Linked DNA regions of Homo sapiens. The protein of the gene in region 3 purifies or fractionates together with the protein of the main gene of each other region. This does not show direct contact. Each region holds a gene or a part of one and is shown on either strand. Other genes may lie near its edges. The genes, in order: GCN1, TMPRSS13, AIRE, GM2A, MCM6, SDR9C7 and SMC1A.

Region 1 (3,500 bases), on a different chromosome or scaffold from region 3:
TTAAACATTACACAGCCAGCACTTCACTTAATTATAGAAAACCCCAGTGTGTATGCATATGGTAATCATCCTTGTAATAGCAGTAATAACTGTATTTACATAGCATCTTTCTTCTTAGGAAGGCTGAATGTTTCATATTTATTATCTCAATTACTATCAACAGCCCTGTGAGGCAGGGAGGGGCGGGAGGGGCAGGAGGGGAGGCACCTGCCCCCAGCCACCAGGGAAGCCGGCTAGAGACGGCCACTCTGAGCTCCTTTCTCCCACAGAGTTTGTGTCATCTTGTGGCCAGAATGACTCCTGCTATCTCCCTACTGCATGAGTGCCCCACTGCCACCGAAATTACTTGGGTTCATCCTAGGAAGTCAAACTAAAGCCACTAATCAAGCCAAGGAAGATAAGGAAAGGCAAGCACTTCCTGTTCAAATCAGAGCCAGGTACGCGAGCGGCTCCGTGCTCCTCCCTGGCCAGCTAACTATGGAATACCAAGAGAGGATTTTAAGTTATGTTCCTTATTACAGGTGCCAACTCAACATGTCCCCAAAACAAACCACCAACCAGGGACTCAATAACCCAAAAAGCTAATGCCAGGCTGGCACCCTGAACTGCCACCTTCAATCTGAGTGGAGGTTCAGAGGGTAAGAGAATGGACTGCCAGCAGTTTGGGCCTCTGAGCTCGAAGCAGAAGCCCAGGTGCCAAGCTAAAGCTGGCTCTGACACCGACTCTCTCCAACTTCATCTATTTTAAGCTGCACTGTGGTAAAATGCAAATATGTTTCAATACTAACTTTTGCTTGCACTGTACACATGACTCTGTAGAAGCCCTGAAAGACTGTGACCAAGACAGCAGACTTTCCTGTCTGTCCCCACAGAGAAGGCTGGGGCTGGAGTCCGACAGCTGGCGCCTGGGGACCAGAACTAGGCCTTTGGAGCCATGGGAAGTGCAGCAGCAAGTGTGTGTGTTGCAGGTGTGGGCAGGAGGAGTGTGTGTGGGTGTGTGTGTGTGTCAATGACGTGTAAAACCATGTGAGCCCAAAGGCCCTCTCCTCCTAGATTGGCCCTACAAAGTAAATTAGACCACAACAGAGGGCTGTCTGAAAAGGGAACAGAAAACTCTTCTCCATAGACTCAACTCCCTACTGGCCCCACAGTGCTCGCAGCCAAATATTTGACAGATGCTTCCAGACTAGGTGAGGCTGATGGAACTGGGACAGAACCAGGAGTCCAGGGCTTCTGGTTTGGACTCTACTACTTGCTGGGTATGGCCCAGACAAGTCTCACCCTCGAAAATAGACCTCTAAGACTTGCCACCGGGACACACCCTGGAGACCATTTATCCCACTACACACTAAGTTTCTTGAGGTCTGTGACCACGAGGTCTATGCACCTCTGGGATAGGCCCTTTAGCTCGGCAAATGTTTCACAAAACAATAAATAAACCTCTTCATTTTACAAAAGTGGAAATGAGAGGCAGACAGAGAAAGTGACTTCTTTAAGATCAGAGAGCAAATAGGTGAGAGGTCTGGGTCTCTACAAAGCTTACTTGCCTCATCTATAAAATAGAAATAACCGGCCGGGCGCGGTGGCTCATGCCTGTTAATCCCAGCACTTTCGGAGCCCGAGGCGGGTGGATCACCTGAGGTCAGGAGTTTGAGACCAGACTGACCAACATGGTGAAACCCTATCTCTACTAAAAGTACAAGTATTAGCTGGGTATGGTGGCGGACACCTGTAATCCCAGCTACTCGGGAGACCGAGGCAGGAGAATCGCTTGATAGGAGGCGGAGGCTGCAGTGAGCCGAGATTGTGCCACTTCACTCCGGCCTGGGTGACACAGCAAGACTCAGCCAAAAAACAAACAAACAAACGGAAATAACCAATATATCCACAATACCTGCCCCGTTTCCCTTGAAACCCGAGGAAATGTTGGTGAAGCATACAGGGTGATAGAAATGTCAGGAATGCTTATTACTACTGAGCTGTACTGGTTCTAACACAAAGTGAAGAACTCAACCTAAGGAGGAGGAGGGAAACCAGTGGTCCAGTGCTGCCACTAGTCCTGCCTGCAGCCGTACCTCATCGTGTCCCAGCATGCTCAGCAGGAGTGAGACGATGTTTTTCCGGATGACGGCATCCACTTTGGCCCCTGCTCCCTGAATCACAAACCTCAGGGCCTGCAGCATGGTGTCCCTGCAGAAGCAATGCACCGCCTTAAGCCCTGGGTGCCTCCACCACCACCCCTCCTGCCAGCGCAGGCTCGGCCCACAGCAACCCCTGGCCTCCTGGAGGCCACAGTGCTCCCTTGCCAGCGCCGTACCTGACACCTGGGTCCTCCATGGCGCGGATGCCATTGAGCAGCTCTGTGAAGAGGGGGTCCACCTTAATGTGGATGGAAATGAGCTTCCCCAGAGCATCTGCGGCCTTCAGGCGCACCCCCCGGTTGGAGTCCTGCAGGGCTTTGGTGAAAGTGGTCTGCAGCTGGGGCAGGAAGGGCTTCAGGGCAATCCCAACCTGTGGGAGGAACCCACATCCATGAAAGACAGTTGTGGTAGACCCAAAGCCACAGTGTACCACAGGCATGAGAACAAATGACAATCCCAAACCACCACAGCGAGTCCAGCTCTCATACAGGGCTGGGGACAGATAGCCCGTCAGAGAGGCCAAACACAGACAGGTTTCGCTTGGCCTCCTGGTCATATCCAGCATGCTTTGATACACTGGAGGAGCAGGAGGCCGAGGAGGCGGCGGCCGCTATCTGAGGGAGCTGTCTCGCAGCCTTGGCTGCGTTGGGGTTTGGCTTAGTGGAGACCTGTCCATATCGATAAGTGACTCAAATCCTCCTCTGAATACATTAACAAGCAGGGCAGACTATCGGCAGTACTGAAGCACAGTTCTAATGCCAAGACAGGGAAAGGGACTCAGTGTATAATTGCAGAGCCCATCTACTGAGCAACTGACAGCAGGATACGCACTCCACATTCAGCCCTCAGAACAAGCCTGTGAAACAAATGACCTTGGAGAATCCTCCCTGCACAAATGTGTACCCACCTAACTAAAAATCCAGTTCAACCCCTGACTATACAGAAACACAGGCACACTTTTGATACAATACAGGTGGGTCCAAGAGTAAAGATTTACTTACTGTTTTTTGTTTTGTTTTTTTTTTGAGACGGAGTTTCGCTCTTGTTGCCCAGGCTGGAGTGCAAGGCGCGATCTCAGCTCACTGCAACCTCCGCCTCCCGGGTTTAAGCAATTCTCCTGCCTCAGCCTCCTGAGTAGCTGGGATTACAGGCACCCGCCACAATGCCCGGCTAATTTTGTATTTTCAGTAGAGACAGGGTTTCTCCATGTTGGTCAGGCTGGTCTCGAACTCCCGACCTCAGGTAATCTGCCCACCTCGGCCTCCCAAAGTGCTGGGATTACAGGCTTGAGCCACCACGCCCGGCTTACTTATTGTTAATTAGGAAAACCAGAGTGACTGTTTGGAGGTTCAGTGCCAA
Region 2 (3,500 bases), on a different chromosome or scaffold from region 3:
GGCTGTCACTGCTACCACCTGGCTATGCCTCTGCAGCTCCCAAGGGTCCTCACCCAAGGCTTGTTCAGGGCCCTCCAGACGTGTTGGGGCAGGAAGGCAGGGCAGGGGTCCGCAGGAAAGCGGTAAGGGACAAGCCAGGGAGGGCTAAAAGGAGCAGCCCCTGGCTCTGGGAGTCTTTCCAAAGCCTGTCCCTGGACAGAAGTCTATAAGCATTTTTACTCCCACTTTACAGACTGAGAGGTAGAGGCCCAAAACATTTGTGTGCTTTGCCCAAAGTTGTTCAGGCCCATCTCACAGCAGAGGAGGGACTAAACCCAAGGCCCCCCACTTCCAGCCCAGGGGTCTCGACACCACAGCTCCCAGGGTTAGATCCCCCCTGAGGCGAATGGGATGTTTTTCTGGTTTCCAGTTGCAGACTCTGCCCCTTGGGCCGTTACCTGGTGGGGATGGTAGTAAGTTAGCCAGCCCCTGAGTATGTCCAGCTCTTGTCCTCTCCTGGACCTTCTGGGGGCCCAGCCAGTGAGAGAGGGGGCCTGAGTGATGTGGGCTCATGGTTGCTTCATCTCAGTGGTTATGGAGCTGCTGCTGTGGATCGAGCCCCAGGCTCTGCATAATGAGAGTTCTTCAGCCATAAGCAGCAGCCTGAACTTGGGAAATATGCACTTCAGGTCCCCCAGAGCCTGGGCTTGCAGTGTGAACCACCCTATAAAAAGCTCTCCCGCAATTGAACAATGAGAACACTTGGACACAGGATGGGGAACATCACACACCAGGGCCTGTCGGGGAGTGGGGAGACGGGGGAGGGATAGCATTAGGAGAAATACCTAATGTAAAGGACGAGTTAATGGGTGCAGCACACCAACACGGCACATGTATACATATGTAACAAACCTGCACGTTGTGCACATGTACCCTAGAACTTAAAGTATAATAATTAAAAAAAAAAAAAAAAAAGCTCTCCTTCTAGTCCTGAAGAATGTCCAGCAGGGAGCAGTAGCTGCTTCATGGCCTGAGGGCGGGTGCATCAGGGCCCGTTTCAGTCCAGTTTAAGCCAATTGGGCCTCCCTCCTCAGCCCTGGGCCATCCCTTCGTAAAGCTACCACCCAGGGTTGGGCATATCACAGGCTGTCAGAGTTGCAAAGATTCTGAAAACCCTCTAAGCTGGGCGTGGTGGCGCCGGCCTGTAGTCCCAGCTACTTGGGAGGCTGAGGTGGGAAAATGGCTTGAGGCCAGAAGCTGAAGACCAACCTAGGCAACATAGCAAGACCCCATCTCAAAGAAAAGAAAAGAAAAGAAAAGAAAACCTACCCAAGCCCTTTATACTATTGTTGAGGCGATGAAGGCCCAGAAAGGCTGTGTGACTTGCTCACGGACACACAGCCAGGTGGGGACGGTGCCAATTCTAGAACCATGATCTTCTGGCCCCCATCCTTGGGCTGTTACACAACACTCTGCTCTTCCCCTCTCTGTCCCTTACCAGCCTCCATGAGAAAGGACCCTTCCCAGACAGAGGCCCCCGTGGCAGCGTCCCTTTTCCAGTGACCCTGGGCATCAAGGGCGCCCATAGGGTGGGCACGGGCAGACCATGGGCCAACAACCCAGCACTCTGGGCTAGGCAGGAAGAAAAACCCCTCACTAAACCCTTCTGGAAGCACTGGCGGCACTGAGAAAGATCAGGATCTCCCTTTGACAGAGCCTAAAAACCCTCCTTGCCTGTTGGGAACCTGGGGAGCCCTGGGGTTGTGGCAGGGGAGGCCTGAACCCTTCCCAGCGAGGGCCCGGCTGGACTGGGTGACTTTTTTCCCTTTCTCACGGCTAGACCCAGGCTTCACTGTACCTCCAGGTTCCCAAGGCCCTTTCCTACTCTCCCCCTCCCCGAACCCAGAGAAACCCCACAAATACAGGCTCTCCTCAGCACACAGGCATCTTCCCCACCACCTCCTCACCCAGCACCAGCATCTCCAGCACACACGCAGTATACAGCTCAGGGACTTGGGTCAGCCCTTGAGGCAGACTGAACTCTGGAAGGGGCCAGAGCTGCAGGGTCTGCCTCGCCCTGGGGGTGGGGGGCACGGGGAGCCTCGCTTCTGCTCCTAGGCCGCCGTGTGACCTTGGGGACAGTCACATCCTTCTCTGGGCCTCAGCTCCCTCTTCAATAAATTAAGGGTGTTGGACAATCAGCAGTTTTCAAACAGGGTTCCACAGAGCATTTCAGTTTCCGTGGAGGTGCCTTGCAGACCAGCTGGTGGGGACTGTGGTGGGCTCTGAGCCCTTACCCCACCTCAACAGAGAAGACCGACCTTTCAGTTTCATACAGCGGAGTCAACATAACATTCATTTGAACAAAAGAGGCAGCTGCTACAACGAACTTGAAAGGGACTGGCCAGAGTAAGTGCTGAAGTCCCTTCTAGTTTCCGATGCCTCCTGTGCACATGAAAAAGCTCAAGGAATCCCTGTTAGACCAGAATCAAGACGCCTCCTTGTTCATTCATTCGTTCATTCACTCATTCATTCATTCATTTATCAAATGCTGTAAAGAACATGGAGTGCCCACTATTGCCCAGCAAATAATGTTTGATTGCCCAGGAACTTGCTGCCTCAATGTTTCCCTGTGTCTGTGCCTTCTCTTGCTGCCAGTCCTAGGGTAGTGACACACTCAGGGCTGGTACATAATGGGGGCCCCTCTAAAGTTTTGGGTATTGCTTCCCTCCTAGGGAAACCAACCCCCATCTGGTGCTGTCAAGGCCTCCACTTGACGGCTAAAGCCAGGGTTCCCTGTGGTGGCTTCCCTCATGCCTGCACCACCAGTGCCCTGCCCACTTGGCCAGGCACATCCACCCTTGTTGTTGCTATACCAAGAGGAATCTGTTCTGCCAAAACAAGACACTTAAGCTAAGTGGCCATTGTTACATCAGTTGTCCTTCCCACCCAGCTCCCCAGCCCAGGGCCCAATACACACACTCCCGCACGCTTACGCTCACATCTGCCAAGTCTCAGGGGACAATGCAGGGGAAATCGAGGTGGCTGTGCCAAAGGAAGTCTGCTCCTCACCAATGACAACATGAAACAGAGGACAAGGTGAGGGCTGCACACCTGCAGGGGCACAGGGCAGGTACCAGGGTCCTTGGAGGACGAGGTGAAGGCTGCACACCTGCAGGGGCATAGGGCAGGTGCCAGGGTCCTTGGAGGACGAGGTGAGGGATGCACACCTGCAGAGGCATAGGGCAGGTGCCAGGGTCCTTGGAGGACGAGGTGAGGGCTACACACCTGCAGGGGCATAGGGCAGGTGCCAGGGTCCTTGGAGGACGAGGTGAGGGATGCACACCTGCAGAGGCATAGGGCAGGTGCCAGGGTCCTTGGAGGACGAGGTGAGGGCTACACACCTGCAGGGGCATAGGGCAGGTGCCAGGGTCCTTGGGGTGCCTGGGGCTGGGATGGGGCTGGGACACGGCATGGCAGAGTGACTTGACCCGCGGGTGAGCCATCTCAGGAACTGCCCA
Region 3 (4,120 bases):
GCCTGGACCGCTGGCCTTGCAGAAGGTCCCCCGACAGGGAGACTTCAGTGCTCACCCTCCTCCTCCAAAGTCAGCAGAACCACAGGCAGAAACTCTGGCTACCTGAGCAACAGTCCGGTCTGCTGTGGGACCACCAGGATGCAAAGGGGCGTGGTCCTCCTTCCATCTTGGAGCCTGGGTCTCCCCATCAGCCCCATCTCCCCGCCACAGCGTCTACCTGACTCAAACACCTGCTGGATGAGGATCCCCTCCACGGCCCCTCGGGCTCCCGGGACGTCCCCGGAGGACATGGCCACAGCTCTCTGGACTGAAGCTGACATGGTCTGAATCCCTGGGAAAGGGAACACCCATTGGGGTCACCCGTGGGGAAGACTGTTCCCAAGCACATACTCTATGCCAGAAGCAGGCAGCACTGGGCTGCAGAGCCCTTTCCTTCCAGCCAGGGCAGGCCAAGGAGGGGACCCAGCCCTGCCATGTGCAGACAGCCCACAGGTAAGTGCAGAGACATGAGAATGTGTGTGTTCGTGTGTGCACCCAAGTGTGCGTGTGCTGGGGGGTGGCAGTGTCAGCAGAGCTGGCACAATGGATAGGAAGGCATGACCAATGACCAGACCCACCCCCCCATGACATGGGCCCTGTATTGTGCCGGGAGGGACACAGAGTTCCTAGGCTCTGCCCTCAGGGAGATAGGGGGTCTCTGGAGTCCAGTGCCCTGGGAAGGAAGGAGAAGGGGACAGGAAGGGTTCAGCCTGCATGCAGCTGGGGGCCAGGGATGATTTTCTGGAGGAAGCTATGTCTAGGCTGGTCCTGAAGGATAGGGAGTGGACGGGCAGAGAAGGTGCCTGAGAAGGGGGTCCCAGAACCAGGGTGCAGTGGGGGCAGGGGCGACTGGCAAGATCATGCTTAGACCCAAGGTGTCCCCTTCCTGGGTCTGGTGGTGCAGCTTAGGCCCTTGGAATGACACACCAGGCCAGCACGTCCCCAGCCCCTAGGACAGGGTCTCAGAGGGCAGGCCCTGCTCTGACCCCTGACCCCTTGCCCCTGGCCAGGGAGAAGGGAGGCGCTCCCACTGGGCCCCGCTCACCGTTCCCGAGTGGAAGGCGCTGCTGCTCTGCGCTGCTCTCCGGCTTCTTGGGGGGCTTGGCCTTCAGTTGAGAGCCTGAATGGGGGAGCTGGGGGCAGCCTGGCCTCCCCTCTCAGTGGGGGTGAGTGCCGGTGGGCAGGGGCCCGCGGTGGGAGGGCGTGGAGGGGGCGGTCCAGTGCTGGGTAGTCCCTTTGCCGGGCTCTGGTTTCTCATCAGTAAAAGGGAAATGAGACCCGCCCGCCTACTTCACCAGCTCCGGGGAGCTCAGCCTTCAGGCAGGAGGGAGCTGAGAGGCTGGTCCAGTGTGTGGGTCTAGTACCCAGAGGAGACCCCCACAGCCCCAGGCAGGCTGGCCCCACACCCAGTGGGTGGGAGCCCGGGTGGGGAGGGGGCGTGGGCTCCCGGGGAAGCCCGGGAAGACTGGAGACCCTGGCTGGCTTCCCCTGCAGGGAGGGTACCTGGGCTGGCGGTGCCCCTTGGAGTCAGGGCTGCTGGCGCGGCAGCTCGAGCCTCTTCTGAGGCCTTCCTCTTGGTGGGGAGTCTGGGTGGCGGTACCAAAGCCTTGGGGACGGCCGGGGGCTTCCTCCCCTTCCGGGGCTGGCTGAGGTCCACATCTGCAGCTCAGGGGCAGGAGCAGGGTCCCAACCTCAGGGTTTTCTCCAGGGGTAGGGTGGGCCCCAGAACTGGACACCTTGGCCAGACAGGTGAGGCCTGGCCCCTTTGCCTCTTAGGATCCAAGACGGTCCTGGAACATCACCCACGGGCTCCTCAAACACCACTCCGGTTCCAGTCCAGCTGGGCTGAGCAGGTGACAGCAGCTGCCCCAGGCCCCCAGCATGGCTGAGTCCACCAGGACCCACCTTTGGGGAAGCTGTCCAGGATGGGCTGCAGCCGGCCATAGCGCTCCAGGTTGTAGTCCTTGAACAGCACCCTCCAGAAGTCCAGGATGGCTGTGGAGTCCTGGGTCAGCAGCCAGGACAGGAGGGCGTGGAAGGCCTGGGGGCAGCCCTCCTTTTCCTTCAGATGAAGCGTCTCCTGCAGTGGGGTGGCATGAGGGTCCCTGCCATGGTCCCCCACACCCTGCGGCCTGCCCATCTCCATCATGACTAGAGGGTGGAGCTCCCAGGCAGAGGCGCTGGCGACCTGGACAGCTCCACGCCCATCTCCTCGGCTTGTGGTGGAGTCAGGTGGTGGTGTAGGGGTGTTGAGGGTGGGGCTGGGGGAACCTGGAGGCCATTCCCTTGGCTTGGGGGTGAGGTGTGGGGACGGCTGGGGGAAGGGGACCAACTTCTAACTTGTCATCAGGGACGCCCCTGGCTCCTTGTGGGGAGGGAGTTGGGGAAGGCTGGAGGGGCTTGGGGATCTGGAGGGGCGGGGTCCTCCTGGAACTTCCCCGGGGACTATCCCTGGCTCACAGGGCCTGGGGGCAGCGGGGGGCGGGCGGGGAGCCCACCTGAAACTTGTCCTCGGGGACCACGTCGTGGTCAGCCAGCGCGTGCAGCAGTGGGAAGGCGCTGTCCACGGCCACCGCGATCTCCGTGCGGTGCAGCCTCAGAAGCCGGCGTAGCGCCGCGTCCGTCGCCATGGGGTGGGCGCGGGGACCCGGGGCTGGGGCGGACGCGGTGGGTCCCGGGACACTGGCAGCCCCTCGCTTGGCCTCGGGTCCCGGCGGGGCTGTGGGGCCTCCGCGCCGGCTGTGCGCCCGCCCGTCTCCCCGGTCTGCGAGCCACGCGCGCCGCTGTTATACCCCCGCGACCACGCAAAGAGCAAAGGCCGCTCCGCCCCGGCGCCCAATCAGGGCCAGGGCCTCCCGCAGGGACACTTCCCTGTGATGGAGGCGCTGCTGTCCCTCCCTCGCTCTCGGGAAGTCTCCGGGCCTGGCCTGACTCACCCACCAGGGCAGCTGCCTTGGGGGCTGGGGACAGAGACTCGCTCTGTGCGGGACTCAGAGAACTCTCACTTCCGAATGTGGCCCTGTCCTGCCTCGGCGAGGGCCCTGCTCGAATGGGGCAAAGCCGAGACAGGTGCCCTCGGCGGGGAGGCTCGGGTCTCAGGGCCCTGGCAGGGGCTGCCCAGGGTGCACCGGCCCCTCCCAGTGGCCGGCAAGAGCCTCCATGGAGGCTGGATCGGGGTGGTGTTCCTGGGGGACCTCCACACAAGCTGAGAGCCCCTACTCAGGGGCCCGCCTGGGGCTGTGGGAGGAGCCCGATGGAGGCTCAGTCTGATGCAGGAGACGGTACGGCAGCCTGGGTGTTGCCAGGGAGCTCCTGACCTCACCATCTTAGGCTAGCTGTGTGACGCCAGGCAAGTCCTTTCCTTCTCTGAGCCTCGGTTCCCTCATCTTTAAAAGGGGCACACTCGCCTGGGGATTGAGGCTCGCATTGACCCCCTCCTTCCTTCCTCCAGGTGCTTTAGAAGGAAGGCGGCCAGCCCCACAACGGGGGTCCTGAGTGTGGCCCTGAGTGAGAGCTCCCAAAGGGTCTTCCTAGGACCAGTGACAGAGGCTGAGGGATGCTGTGGCCTGGACAGGAGCTTCCGGGGGCATCTGGGAAGGTGTCCGGGAGGGGAGCTGCAGTGGACAGGAGCCGAGGGTCCCAGGTGGACGTGAGTGGGGACAGTGCCCCCAGTAAAACAAGACCAGGTGCAGAGGCCTGGGGCCTGCAATGATGCTGAGGCTGTGGTGGCCCCGCAGGCATGGCCTGGAGGGGGGGTGGCCTCAGTGGGAGGCCTTGGTAACAGTCCCCTTGTCTGTGCGGTCAAGCCAGGGAAGCAGGCCCTGTGTGCAGGCTGCAGAGAACCACGAGAGGTCTCTGGGCACGAGTGTTCCCACTGAGCCAGAGAACGAGATGACCTGGCCAGCATGGATTAGGGCTGAAGGGTGGACGAAGGTACCAGGAAGCCTGAATCCAGGCAGCACTGGGCTGGGGGCTAACTGATGCAGTGAGAGACGCCACCAAGATTCCCACGTGGGCAGGCGTGCCGTTTGCTTTTGGGCAGCCAGAGTCCAGGATGGAGAGCGGCAGACACCTCTCCTCT
Region 4 (3,500 bases), on a different chromosome or scaffold from region 3:
GGAGGCAGAGGTTGCAATGAGCCATGATCGCGCGACTACACTCCAGTCTAGGCAACAGAGTGAAACTCCATCTCAAAAAAAAAAAAAAAAAAAAAGAAATTGGGGAAAAAGAAGGAGCAGAGGGGATCTGAGGCTAATTTTTCCTAAGCACAAGTGACAGTAAAGACAGAGGAGATTATGTAGGCCCAAATTTATGAAAGGTAATAAAGCAATGGAAAAGGAGAATAGGGAGTAAAACCCATCTTAATGGTTTGTGAAGAAGCCAGGAAAAGCAGGCTGAGGGCAGAAGAGCGGGTTTGCCAGCTTCTTGTTTCCAAGTCAGCTGCATAGCCCCCTCCCTGGAAACACCAGTGGCTGCATGGTGATGGCAGCAGAGGGAGCATGGCGGACGGCCTACCAGGAGAGCCCACACTCCAGATCAGCAGAGGGAGCACACAAATAAATGTGTGTGACCCTGGCAGAGAAACAGTCCAGTGTCCATACATAGGGAATGATTCCATCCCTTGGCCCAGATCCAAGGGTACAGGGCTTGACCCCCTATCACTTGAGGAACAGTAATGGAAACACAATGACTCTGCTAGGAAAAGGCTTGGTAGGAGGTGCAGGGGAGCTGAAAGCTGCCACATATCCAGGACTTGTGTCTGGGTCAAGAGACTGCAGGATAAGACAGATACTAATCGAAATGTTCACAAGATATAAAATGTACTGAGCATGTCCTGGGTGCCAGGCCCTGTGCAAAGCACTTTCCACATGATTTTCTAACTCAGGTATTGCTCAAGGAAAGCCCATAACGTAGGAGCTGTGATTAAGACAGGTCTAAGGATAATGATAGAAACACAGAATCCAAATCAGGAATCTTCTAAATAATTAACACAAAACTGGTACTAGAATAGATCTGGATCAGGAACAGACTGAAGGGCATAGAGGAGCATCATATAAAGGTAGCAATTTTAGCTAGAGAGGAAAGGACCATATTAAATGGTGTTGCAATGGATATATGAAAAGTCTTCATTGTTTTCTAAGAAAATATAAAAACATACACCCCTAAAATAGTCAATGGATGGAAACAAACAGGTTATTCCCAAAGTAAATACAAAAGGCAAATAAACTTATGAATAGACATCTACGCTCACTAGGAATGATGCAGGTTTATTCAAACATTGGGAGGCACTTTGGCAAAATGTATCAAAAGACCTAAAAAGTGTGTATCTAGAGAATCAGAAAATTATAAAAAGATGTACTATAAGAATAATTTCTACAAAGGTGGTTACTACAGCAAAACAAAAAACAAACAAACAAAAAAAACCCTCTGGCCAGGTACAGTGGCTCAAGCCTATAATCCCAGCACTTTGGGAGGCTGAGGCAGGTGGATTGCCTGAGGTCAGGAGTTCAAGACCAGCCTGGATAACATGGTGAAACCCCATCTCTACTAAAAATACAAAAAGTAGCTGGGCATGGTGGCAGGTGTCTGTAATCCCAGCACTTTGGGAGGCCGAGGCAGGCACATTGCCTGAGGTCAGGAGTTCAAGACCAGCCTGGCCAACATGGTGAAACCCCATCTCTACTAAAAATACAAAAATTAGTGGGGCGCAATGGCAGGTGCCTGTAATCCCAGCACTTTGGGAGGCTGAGACAGGAGAATCGCTTGAACCCGGGAAGTGGAGGTTGCAGGGAGCTGAGATTGCGCTACTGCACTCCAGCCTAGGCAACAGAGTAAGAACCTGTCTCAAAACAAACAAATAAACAAACAAACAAATAAAAACTACCCTGGAAACAAACTAAATGTTCAACAATAGACTTGTTATATAAATTATGAAAGATCCACATCAGAATATTTCTGCCATTAAAAATGATTGGGTGGGCTGAGCAAGGTGGCTCACGCCTATAATCCCAACATTTTGAGAGTCTGAGGCAGGAGGATTGCTTGAACTCAGGAGTTTGAGACCAGCCTGGGCAACACAGGGAGGCTCCGTCTCCATAAAAAATAAAAAAATTAGGTAAGCATGGTGACATGAACCTGTGGTCCCAGCTACTCAGGAGGCTGAGGTGGGAGGATCCCTTAAGCCCAGGAGGTCAAGGCTGCAGTAAGCCATGATCACACTACTGCACTCCAGCCTGAGCAACAGAGTGACACACTGTCTCTAAAATTACAATACATTAAAATAATAAAATAATGATTGGATAAAAAAAAATTGAATAAGTAGAGCCACCTAATCCTTGGAAAGATATGGACATATAGTATGAGGCAAAAAAAATAGCAAGTATAATAGCACATATCATATAATCCCATGAGTATAAGTGTGTATATATTTACAAACACATAAAAATTCTGATGGGATATATAAAGAGCAAACACTGACTATCTCTAGGATTTAGATTACTGGAGGACATTTACAATGAGCACTGCCTATTATCATACATATCCATTAAAAATAAATATGTGTGTTATGTATGTAATTGTATGGGGGAAAGTTGCAAAGAATATCCTATAAGATGTTAAAAGTGCTTATCCCTTATCACTAGGTAGTGAGATTTCAAGTGATTTATTTTATTTATTTATTTATTTTGGGACAGAGTTTCACTCTGTCACCCAGGCTGGAGTGCAGTGGTGCGATCCTGGCTTTCTGCAACCTCTGCCTCTTGGGTTCCAGCAATTCTCCTACCTCAGCCTCCTGAGTAGCTAGGATTACAGGCACATGCCACCACGCCCAGCTAATTTTTGTACTTTTAGTAGAGATGGGGTTTCACTATGTTGGCCAGGCTGGTCTCAAACTCCTGACCTCAAAAGATCCACCCACCTCAGCCTCCCAAAGTGTTGGGATTACAGGCATGAGCCACCACACCTGGCCTATTTTATTTATTTTTTGACCACTTGTGTTTTCTAAAGTGACTATATATTACTGGCTAATTGGTATATCAATTTTATAATTAACAACAAAACCAAATTGGCCAACCAGAGCTGTCAGACAATAATGAGCAGTTGGCCACCAGGCCCAGAGAAGGCCAGGACGCTTCTGCCAGGTGCAAGGTATCCGTCACTCCTGCCCTCACCAGGAAGTTGCTGGCGCTGACATCAGAGATTCCTTTCAATCTTATGATCCTGAGATTCCATGAACCTGTGAAAGAGTGTCTGAATCTACATGTCCTGTACTATTCTCTGGGAATCCAGGATTCTGAAATTCTTCACAGTTCCCCAAGCATACATGCCCCAGTACCCCTGCTGGCCAGACCCTCGCACCTCCCCTTCTCCACCCACCCCCAGGCTCACCTTCAGAGGAGAACTCAGGGGGACACTGGTGCTGCCCATGACACTGAGGGTCACATTTCCAGGAACGATGATGGGGTCAGGCTCCAGAGTCAGGCTTCTGATCACCGCAGGGTCCTTCCCTTCATCACAGTTATCCCAGGAAAAGCTACTGAGCTGGGATGGCTGGGGACAATCAGGCAGCAAGGAAGGAGAAGAAGAAAAAGGTTGACAAAAGAAACTATCACAGATCACA
Region 5 (3,500 bases), on a different chromosome or scaffold from region 3:
AAAAAAGGCTACTCCCAGTACGAACAAACATGATAAAATATCAAGAAATTCAACAAGAAACACTGAAAAACATATGAAGAAAAGTTTAAAGCACTACTGAGTGAAACAGAAGACTTAAGTGGAAAGATAACGGTATTTGTGGTACTCAGAACTGTTCACAAATGTTTGCTCTTCTAATTCTGGGCACCTGGTAGGAAGGCATTTCTCTATCCATTTGAACTTAGGAGGGGCCATGTTAATTTCTCTGGCGAATGAAATGTGAGTATGTGTCATTTCTGGATAGAAGGGGGAGAAAGCACATGGCTCACCACCTTCTCTTCCCTGCTTTCTGTCATCATGAAAGCGTATGTCAAGATCAAACCTTTATATCAGCCTGAATCTCTGAGTAACTTGACAAGGTGAGTCCCTTGATGACCTAATGGATGTGTAGCACAAGCAAAAAAAAATTGTTTTATGCAGCTGAGATTTTATAGTAGTACAACCTAACCTATTCTAAGTGATACGTTACTGAATAGGAAAAATCATAGATGTTTTCAATTCTTCAAGTTAATATAAATAGAATGTTATACTGATAAAAAAATACCAGGTTTTTCTTTAAAACAGAGCAAGCTGATTTCTAAGTTCCTAACAGCTGATAGAGAACAATGCGCTGGAACTAGCCCTACATTTAAACTACAAAGCCCCATAGATTAAAACATCATGGTACCAATGTAAGAGGAGCTGATAAGACTCAATGAACAGAATGGAAAGTCCAAAAGGAGATCCTAACACACACAAGAATATATAATTAAGGCATGCCAAACCAGTGTCAAAAAGATGGATTGTTCAATAAATGGTTTTGGAACAACTAGAAAACTAGCTAGGTAAATAATGGGAGAATTTTTTATAATCTTAGAGTGAGAAAGGCCTAACAAAAGTTTTTTTAATGGATGAAGATTATGAACATATGAGACAGAAATAGCTCTTAAATATATGCAGATACTAAATTTCATTCAGAAAATATATTTGTGTATATAATTTATGTGCATATATTTTAATATCATGTGAATCTGCTATTTGAAGACTAATTTTTAAAAATAGAACAAAATAAAAATCAATTAGAGACTGCCCTAAGACATGTACCAGTTTTATGCAACTCATTTCAGGAACTATCACAATGAAAAAAAAAGTACAAATGTTAGCATGGTTTTAGAATGACCTTGTCCCAGGGTATCTTGCCTATCCAAATTCTGCACACCCTTCAGTGACTGGGTTTAAACGTCGGCACCTCCCTGAGTCCTCCTCCTTCTTTGGTAATAAAGTAATTCATCTCAGCACTCTGGTTGTGATGCTCTATTCTCCCTCTCGTTTTTTTTTAATTTCCAACTTATATTTTAGGTTCGGGGGTACACATGCAGGTTTGTTACATAGGTAAACTGTGTGTCATGGGGATTTAGTATATAGATTATTTCATCACCCACTCTATTTTTTACATGCTTAATTAAATACATGTCTCGTTCCCACCAGATTAGCAGCAATGGAAGGCAGGGGCTCTCATTCATTTTTTGTCCCCTACAGGTGTTCCCTAAATATTGGGTGAATCAAAGAATATTAAATAACCTAGTGTGAAAGTACTTCGTCAATAGTAAAGTACCATATCAAAGAATTTGAAAATTTAGTGGAAAAAAGCCAAAAAATTAACCTGTGGGATAAAAGTAGTGATTGAAGTCGGAACAGTGGTTACTTCAGGGGAAGAGGGCTAAGACTGAAAAGAGGCAGGGGTTTGGAACTTTCTGAAATTATGGAAATGTTTTGGATCTTGAGCTGGGTATTCACAAGGATGTATGTGAAAAAACTCACCATGCCATACATTTCCCTTTTTATAAATTATACCTCAGTCACACTGTAAAAAAAAGCCAAACCCCCTTTTCAAAGACGACCTTACATCAAACCTATTAATAAAACTAGGAAAACGCAGGGCTGCTTTGGTTGAAGCGAAGATGGGACGCTTGAATGCCCTTTCGTACTACTCCCCTTTTACCTCGTTAATACCCACTGACCTATCCTCGTGGAATGCAGGGCTCAAAGAACAATCTAAAAATCAAACATTATACAAATGCAACCTAAGGAGGAGAGTTCCTTTGAGGCCAGGGGCTACATTATCTTATCTGTATTGCCAGCGCAGAGGCCTACTAGTACATTGTAGGGTCTAAGTACATTTTTCCTGAATGAAAGGTATTAAATGGTAACTTACGTCTTTATGCACTCTATAAACTATGACGTGATCGTCTCCGTCTAACAACTACACTCAAATGCTTACCAAGCTCTTTAAAGGGAAGAATTCCATGGTCGTATGAGCATTCAACAGTTACATAAAAATGTATTTGCAGTGAATTCTAGTATGTCCCATACCAAAGATTAAAAACATGCAACAAATCTGTTTATCTCTGCTCTCATCATATCAAAGTGACTCTGATACCTCATCACAGCAGTGCATCCGAGCCATAGCTTCAGAGAGACGAATCATGCTCTCAAGCTGTCGCACTGTAATCCTCCATGAAGACTTGGTCACTCCAGAACCATCTCTCTGGCGGAGATGTTTATATTGCTCCACAATGAAGTCCTCTGACTCTTTGGAAATCTGTTTCAGATCATCACTCAAGTTAGAGAAACATTTCTATTTGATGAGAGCTACGGTAAACCTAAGTTTAAGAGCCTTCCAGGTGGAAACATTTAGGGAACCTGAGAGGGTTGAAACTTTGAGAAGCCAGTGACAATAAATTACTATTGTAATGTCTTTCAAAAGAAACTAATATTAAGGAGGCTTGTGAATTCCATGTTACTAATTTTATGAACCTGAAAAAAGGCTTAGTATTTAAGCAAATGACCATTTCTAAAAGCTGCTTAACAAGCTGAAGCAATGGAACAAGATGTAATGTCTTTTACACCTCAGGATGTCAGTGCTCATTAAATAAATTAATGCTCAGTATTTGAGGCTCAATTAATTAACTCACACTCTTTGCAGGGAAAAAAAAGCTGTTTCAATAAACTTTATATCTAAAGGATCCTCAGCTTTTCAGAGCAAGGAATTCACCATATTAAGGAAGCATGCCAAGGTTACAGAGGGATCAGTATATCAGTATGCAGTAATGGAGAACAGATGCTCTTTTTTACACAAGAATCACCCATAATCCTTAGTTTTAAATGATTAAATTTCTTTGGGACAGTGAGAGCCAACTGCAATCTCATGAATAATCAAGTGAAGATGATAAATGATCAATACCTAGTAACACCTTCCAGAAGTCAAGTTAGCCAACAGTGTGAAAATCTCAACCAGAATGAGTATTTTTTTTCCTTTTCATACCCTATTTTGGGAAAATGCCAAGCATTTGGGGGTTTATGTCCAGGTAAGAATCCTGGGTCCAGAACAGAGTTAGTCCAATACAATGCATCAATCACTGTAAAACAGTAATTTATATTTATCATAATGGCCTAGATGAATCCAATGTTTCCTTCAAAGA
Region 6 (3,500 bases), on a different chromosome or scaffold from region 3:
CTTTTCTGCTTAAATAATTTGCATTGGATCTTCTGTCACTGAGTAAGTCCCAACTAGTGTAAATCCTTAGACATTTTCTTCTCACAGAATCCTAACATGTCTAGCACTAAAAGATGAATTTATCTAAGGAGTACTCCAAACATTTTTCCCTGAGACTTCCCTAAATCAATGAATGAAGACACCTCCATTCACCATGTTCTTCAAGCTGTAAAGCTAACACTCACCCTTGATAGCTTCCTCTCCCTCACCCCTTAATCCTCAGTGTGCTTTGATGCTCTAATTTATTCCGTATACCCCAGCTACCTCCCATTGCTTCCCACCTGCTGGTTTCTTTAAAGTTCCTCAAATGGAGTTTTCTGCCTCAGAGCCTTCCTGCAGAAAAAAAGTCCCTACGCATCCCCTCTTTCCCCTTCCCAGCAACACCTAACTCTTATTCCTCCTCAAAGTCAACTCAGAAGCTCTCCCCTTCACCATAGTCTGAATTGGGACCGCAACTTCCTGCTCCATTCTTCTTTCACAACCCTGTTTCTCCTCTGTAGCACTTATCCACATCTACCATAAACACATGTGTTTTGATTTATGTTTGTCTCCCCTACTGGGCCATAAGCTACAGGCAGTGAAGGGCAGGCATACTGCTGTGTCCGCTCCAGCTCTCCAGCCCCACACAGGCTTGGGACATGGCAGCCTTGCATGCTTTGTATTACTGATTCAAAACAAAAACAAAAAACAAAAATGCAATAAAGTGTGTATGTATTAAGTGAAAAAAATGGCTGACTTGGCTTTGTGCTCTGTTGACGTACGACATCCAGCAGACAACTTTCGTGGCAGAAAGTTTTGGGGCAGCAGGGTAAACAGCTGCCGTGTCCCACCTCTACCCTCCAAAAACACCTATGATTCACAGGAGACCCTCAGCTCAGGGAAAGAAAGAGAGTTGCCTAGAGACCCTCCCTTTTAAATCCCCATGTGCTCATTTTCTTCTTTATTAACAAGCACTCAGAATGTGCAAAGTACTTCACACATACTAACCCTCATAACAACCCCATGAGGGAGGCACTATCTTTAGCTCCATTTTGTAAATAAGAAAACTGAGGCATGGGAAAACTAGGTAATAGGTCCAAAGTCTCCTAGCTGGTAAGTAGTAGAGCCAGGATTTGAACCCAGGCAGTCCGGCTCCAGCAGCCATGCCCTTGATCTCTTTGCTGTATTTATCTCAGTGCATTTTCACCTGATTCCCCTGCATCATGATGCTGTGGGGGCAGGTGCCAGGAGTGGGCTGAATTGCCCTTAACTCCCCGGGCTGCTCCAGAAGTGATGATTCTGCCACTTGCTCTCTATTCTCAAACCCCAGCTGTGCCACTATGTGACCTTGGGTCCTGAACTCCTCTGCATTTTGTCTCACCATCTGTAAACGGAAAGCCAGCTAATGACCCCAAGACCCACTCGCCCCCCTCAGAGACCCCTCTCCTGCCCCAGGAACTTACAGATGCGGAAATAATCCTCTCCGTAGCTGTCCCGGGTCTCCTGAGGCAGCCTCTCCCAAAGCTTTCGCATGCGTGACTCCAGGTTCTCCTTGCCGAGAATGGCTGTCCGATAGTTCCCTGGCTCAATGATGCAGACTTTCACCCCAAAGTAGTAGAGCTCACGCCTGGGAAAGAAGAGTTGCAGTCAGTCTGGGCCCCAAGATGACAATCATCACGGAGAGTCACCTCTGGATGGGCTGGTCTTTCAGGAACCTAGAGATGCTTCTCTCACCCCTGTACTTGGCCCTGGCATTGCCTTTGTGCAAATAAGCCCTTCCTTAGGGACTCAGCCCTTTCCAAAACTGGCCCAACAGTCTCTGGGCAATTTGCATTAGGCACAACCAGCGGGAAGAAGTCAATAGAGAATCTAGGCCAAAGCCTTGCCTCCCACCAGGTCCCTCCCATTAGCAACCCCTCACTCAACACCCACACGGTGAATGGTGTGGATATACACAAGGCCTGCACGCTCCTCTAAGGACCTCCCAGAGGGGACCTGTGCCTCCAGGCCTGTCTGTCTGTTTGGGGGACTCTCCCTCCTCTCACAGGCCCAAACAGGGTTTCACTCACCCTGGTGCCGCTCAAGGGAAGGCCCACCTGATGCCTTGTATTTCCACCCTACCTCTTCTCCTCATCCCTGCTCTTGGTCCTTGGAGAAAGCACCTTGAGGTCTAACCTTCCTTCTGCTATTGTGTTAGCTTCCTGTCTGCGGAATTCCCCTGCCCACATGCTGTCACTCCCAACCCTCTCTAATCTCTGGGATTTTCACCCAGAATTGTTCAGTACCAGGGCCCAGTTACCTTATGCTGTCAGAGAAGGCCTCAACGCCAAACTTGGAGACGCAGTAGCCACCACCAATGACAGCCACACGACCACCAGAGCTGGACATGTTGACAACCCTGCCCCGGGCTCTCTTGACCATGGGCAGCATGTGAAGGGTCACTTCGATCAGTCCCACCAGGTTCACATTAATCACCTTCACAAAGTCATCCTTGGTCAGCCATTCGTTGGGACCACTGGGCAGGCCCACACCAGCATTGTTCACCAGGGCCCAGAGGCCTGGGGGTGAGATGAACCACACAGAAATCATCAGTGGGCCTGGGAAAGAACCAAGTTCTGCTCCCCACCGGCTCAGTGCCCTCAAGGATGGTTGAGCAGGTGCACAAGACATAACTCGGTCAGGCTATAACATAAAAGGAAGGTGTGTCTTTTACTAACTCGTTTTCCCTGAAGGGACACTTTTTCCTGATTCACATAAAGTCTGCCGGCTAGCTGGCGCTCTGTACTAGCTACAATCGAGGTGTTAGGTGACAGCATTTCAGCTATCAGCTTTGGGATAAGAGTTTCATTTTCATACCAATGAATTAATGTTTAGATCCCTTCCCCATCATACTTCTCCCTCTCTATTCACTTAAGTATAACCAACTGCATTTCACATACTACCAAAATCAATCCATTCATTCATTCATCTTCACACATTTATTCATGCATTTATCTAGTCTGTGACAATTACAGGGTGAAGGAGGCCAGGTGCAGTGACTCACACTTGTAATCACAACCCTTTGAGAGGCTGAGGTGGGAGGATCACTTGAGGCCAGGAGTTTGAGACCAGCCTGAGCAACAGAGTAAGACCCCTGTCTCTACAAAAAAAGAAAAAAAATTAGTCAGGCGTGGTGGTATGTGCCTGTAGTTCTAGCTACTTGGGAGGCTGAGGTGGGAGAATCACTTGAGCCCGGGTTACAGGTTACCTTGTTCGAGGTTACAGTGAGCTATAATGGTGCCATTGCACTCCAGCCTGGGTGACAGAGTGAGACTCTGTCTCTAAAAATAAAATGAAATAAAACGATATAAAATAAAATAAAGTAAAATACAGGGCAAAGGAGACATAAAATGAACAACACAGCATCTTATCCCTCAAGGAACTCACAAGCCTAGAAGGAAATAATAATATTTATAAATAAATATATAAAATATTTAAATAAA
Region 7 (3,500 bases), on a different chromosome or scaffold from region 3:
ACTGGCAATCTTAGGGACTATTTTTCCTTTAAAAAGGGTCTGTGTATTACTAAAGTTTGAAGACACTACATAAATAATGTTACAAACGTAGCATGATTTGCTAAATTCCCACTTTCCAAGGGGCACTGAGTAGTTTCCAATTTGGAACTATAAATAATGCTTGTTATAAACATCAAAGTGTTTGCATAAAGCTTTGCCAGCATTTTGGATGATCTCCTCAGGTACTACTGAGTTACAGAGTATAAATGCATTGTGAAGCTTCTTGAAGGATGGTGCCACATTACATAAGAATACTCGTCTCCTGGCCAGGCACGGTGGCTCATGCTTGTAATCCCAGCACTTTGGGAGGCCGAGGCAGGTGGATCATGAGGTCAGGAGTTCGAGACCAGCCTGGCCAATATGGTGAAACCCCGTCTCTACTAAAAATACAAAAATTAGCTGGGCGTGGTGGCAGGCACCTGTAGTCCCAGCTGCTTGGGAGGCTGAGGCAGGAGAATGGCATGAACCCGGGAGGCGGAGGTTGCAGTGAGCTAAGATAGTGCCACTGCACTCCAGCCTGGGCAACAGAGCAAGACTCCATCTCAAAAAAAGAAAAAAAGAATACTGGTCTCCTATACCATGGCTGGTATTGAGCATTGTGTCTTCTGTTTTTACATTTTCCACGATGTGTTACAAAATACATTGTATCTAATTGTTGCTTTAATTTGCATTTCTTTAGTAAGACTAAATTATTTGTATGTGTTTAGGGACTATTTGAAAGTCTTCTTGAACTGTTTGTGACATTTATCCATTTTTCCCGTTTAGGTCTTGGTATTTTTCTTATTGATTTAGATGAGAAATTTCTAAGTTGTGGACATTATCCTTCTGTCTGTCGTATTTCTTCCCATTTTTCCTCCCAGTTATTAGTCTGTCTTTTAATTCTTTCCTTCCTTACCTTTTTGAGCTTTTCTATCTCATTTTCATCTTTTTTCACTGTCTGCTCCCACATGTGTACTTTATCTTGGTCCTCCTTCAGTTGGTTCTTTTCAAAATCCAACTGAATGCCCAAGCGAGTCTTCTGATTCTCAAACTCCAAACTGTGTATAAAGGTGGGGGGAGAATCACTCATAATCTCATCAGCCAGAGATAACCAATGTACAAAATCCAACTATGGGAAGAAAGGGAAACTAGACCCAGGGCTCAGGGACCCAGAGTTACTGATTTTCAGTCACAACTTGCTTCATCCATCCATATGCACATAAAACGGTCCCCTGAAGCTGAAGAACTAAGTTCCTCAGCCTAGCCCTGTGGACATGGCATAAGGCAGGGAAGATTCGGCCAAACCTTATTTATCCCCCTTTAAACAATGAAGACCCCAGCGCCCTCCAAGTTCCTACAAGGAGGCATAAAAGAGTCCATCTGATTCTACCAGCTATGGTAATTCCTATTAGGCTTCTATGTACTTTACATACATTATCTCTAATCCTCTAATCAACAGCTCTGCAAGTAGGCATTATTATCCTAATTTTACAAATGAGGAAAACTTAGGCCAAGAGGTAAAAGACCTTGCCCAAGGCCACACAGCTAGTAAATGGCACATGTGAGACTGAAACCCAGATTTAACACCAAAACCCGGGCTCTTTCTAGTATACCACCACTGCAACATAATGTAGTGGATTAAGAAGACTGGCATCTCAACTCTGCCACTTACTAGTAATGTCATTCAGGCAAGTTGGTTATACTCTCCAGACCTGTTTCCCCATCTGCAAAATGAACATAATAATAGTACCTACCTCAGGGTTATTGGGAGATTTTTAAATGAGTTAATATGTATAAAGTCCTTAGAACCACACCGAGTCCACGATAACTACTCAATCAATTTTAGTTACCATTATCACCAGGTATATTGACTGTACTCAGCTTACTTTTGTCCAAGGGCTTCAACTACAGCATCCCAACTTCTGCCCCAAGGTCCCAGAACCTCTTAAAGGGCAGAACTTGGATAGTACAAAAACATGGAGAAAATACTGGATTCCTGCTATTGTCCTCCTCTCCATCTCTTCAGAAACTCAAGAGTATGCAACCAGCATACACAGGCACTGGCAGGCCAGGCAGGACTAACTTCCAATTGCCCTCTCCAACTCCCAATATGGTGTGACAGATGTTGCCAGATGTCATGCTAGCAGCTTAAACCTATTAGCCACTATAATCCAAATGAAATATAACTAACTCTATAATTTTGAGCTATGCAATTTTATATCCAATCTCCTAAGTATGACTCACAAAGGCCTCTGTGATCCGGCCCCTGCTGACCTCTCCACCACTCCCCACCTTCTTCCTGACCCTGCTTTTATGCTCCAGACATTAAAAACTACTTAGTATCCAGAACAAGGCATGCTCTCTCACACTTCCAAGCATGCTGTTCTCTCTGCTTGGAATTCACTTTTTCTGTCGCTGCCTGGCTGGCTAAATCCTACTCACTCTTCAGGTCTCCAGTCATCACTCCCTGTTTTGTAAAACCTTTCCTGACGGTTCTGAGCAGGTTCCTAGTTTCTATTACACTTTGTTGGGTTCCTCCCTTTTTAGACTTTAGGTGCAGAAGCAAGTTAATCATATCCCACAGTTCATAACACACTTATCACCACTGCCTGGGCAAGACCCTTCCCTTGTCCTCTTTGTTTCAATCCCCAATTTCCATTCCCATTACCTTCCCTACTGTGAACATGCACCACAAAGTGACATACACACATGCATTCCTTAAAAATGCATATCCTTGTAAAATGTCTTAGTTCTAAAATTTACACAAATCTACTGTGTTATAAATTTTATTCTTTTTTCTGGTCAATACCAGGTTTATAAGTTATCCATTACTGCCCACAAATCTAGTTCTTGCTGTGAACTCCCACACAGTATTCCAGTCTATATATTCATTTGACTTATGCTCCCCCAGTAATGGCCATCTACATTGCCACCAATGTCCCACTACTACAAGTTATGCCAAGATGAATGACACTGAATGTGTATCTCTTTGGGACCCTATGGCAAGACTCTCTCAGGGATATATACCCATAGGTTTTATATATGTGTATATATATACATTATATATATACACATATATTTTTTTCACATACTACACAGGACATCTATAGATTTCCACCTAATACTGTCAGACTTTTAAATTTGCATTTCTCTGATTAAGAGGTTAGACCTCAATTCCTATGGTCATTAGCCACTTGAACTTCTCTTTCCATGAAAGCCTATCTATATTATTTGCCACTTTTTTTTTTTTTACTTTTTTCATTGCATTGGGTATCATAAGTACTTAGCCACATTTCCATTGGGTTTCTTGTCATTGTTTTTTATTTTTCCTGTTGTTGATTTGCAGTTCCTTGAAAATTTCTTCAGTATTTTGTATCTACCTTAATTACACCATTGATCACACTGTCCTCAAATTGATGTTTCCCCCAGTACTCTATATGTTTCCTGAGGAAAGAAATACAGTCTGATTCAATTCTATATCC

What was found.
Region 1: the proteins of AIRE (region 3) and GCN1 purify together in Homo sapiens (affinity purification with mass spectrometry, with the first as the bait; one study listed by BioGRID). This does not show direct contact.
Region 2: the proteins of AIRE (region 3) and TMPRSS13 purify together in Homo sapiens (affinity purification with mass spectrometry, with the first as the bait; one large-scale study listed by BioGRID). This does not show direct contact.
Region 4: the proteins of AIRE (region 3) and GM2A purify together in Homo sapiens (affinity purification with mass spectrometry; 2 studies listed by BioGRID and IntAct, with this or other methods). This does not show direct contact.
Region 5: the proteins of AIRE (region 3) and MCM6 purify together in Homo sapiens (affinity purification with mass spectrometry, with the first as the bait; one study listed by BioGRID). This does not show direct contact.
Region 6: the proteins of AIRE (region 3) and SDR9C7 purify together in Homo sapiens (affinity purification with mass spectrometry; 2 studies listed by BioGRID and IntAct, with this or other methods). This does not show direct contact.
Region 7: the proteins of AIRE (region 3) and SMC1A purify together in Homo sapiens (affinity purification with western blotting; one study listed by BioGRID). This does not show direct contact.

Annotation. Positions count from the first base shown.
Region 1 is NC_000012.12:120,132,216-120,135,715, forward strand, and holds part of GCN1 (stalled ribosome sensor GCN1), read right to left. Parts: intron 2,512-3,500; coding exon 2,318-2,511; intron 2,191-2,317; coding exon 2,076-2,190; intron 1-2,075. UniProt on the Homo sapiens protein: Ribosome collision sensor that plays a key role in the RNF14-RNF25 translation quality control pathway, a pathway that takes place when a ribosome has stalled during translation, and which promotes ubiquitination and degradation of translation factors on stalled ribosomes.
Region 2 is NC_000011.10:117,922,903-117,926,402, forward strand, and holds part of TMPRSS13 (transmembrane protease serine 13), read right to left. Parts: intron 1-3,500. UniProt on the Homo sapiens protein: Serine protease. Cleaves the proform of PRSS8/prostasin to form the active protein. Cleaves the proform of HGF to form the active protein which promotes MAPK signaling.
Region 3 is NC_000021.9:44,284,556-44,288,675, reverse strand, and holds the start of AIRE (autoimmune regulator), read right to left. Parts: upstream 2,801-4,120; 5' UTR 2,670-2,800; coding exon 2,538-2,669; intron 2,120-2,537; coding exon 1,945-2,119; intron 1,699-1,944; coding exon 1,543-1,698; intron 1,160-1,542; coding exon 1,085-1,159; intron 332-1,084; coding exon 218-331; intron 1-217. UniProt on the Homo sapiens protein: Transcription factor playing an essential role to promote self-tolerance in the thymus by regulating the expression of a wide array of self-antigens that have the commonality of being tissue-restricted in their expression pattern in the periphery, called tissue restricted antigens (TRA).
Region 4 is NC_000005.10:151,259,685-151,263,184, reverse strand, and holds part of GM2A (ganglioside GM2 activator isoform 1 precursor), read right to left. Parts: intron 3,431-3,500; coding exon 3,269-3,430; intron 1-3,268.
Region 5 is NC_000002.12:135,848,944-135,852,443, forward strand, and holds part of MCM6 (DNA replication licensing factor MCM6), read right to left. Parts: intron 2,621-3,500; coding exon 2,459-2,620; intron 1-2,458. UniProt on the Homo sapiens protein: Acts as a component of the MCM2-7 complex (MCM complex) which is the replicative helicase essential for 'once per cell cycle' DNA replication initiation and elongation in eukaryotic cells.
Region 6 is NC_000012.12:56,927,909-56,931,408, forward strand, and holds part of SDR9C7 (short-chain dehydrogenase/reductase family 9C member 7), read right to left. Parts: intron 2,577-3,500; coding exon 2,318-2,576; intron 1,646-2,317; coding exon 1,482-1,645; intron 1-1,481. UniProt on the Homo sapiens protein: Plays a crucial role in the formation of the epidermal permeability barrier.
Region 7 is NC_000023.11:53,398,655-53,402,154, forward strand, and holds part of SMC1A (structural maintenance of chromosomes protein 1A), read right to left. Parts: intron 1,077-3,500; coding exon 935-1,076; intron 1-934. UniProt on the Homo sapiens protein: Involved in chromosome cohesion during cell cycle and in DNA repair. Central component of cohesin complex. The cohesin complex is required for the cohesion of sister chromatids after DNA replication.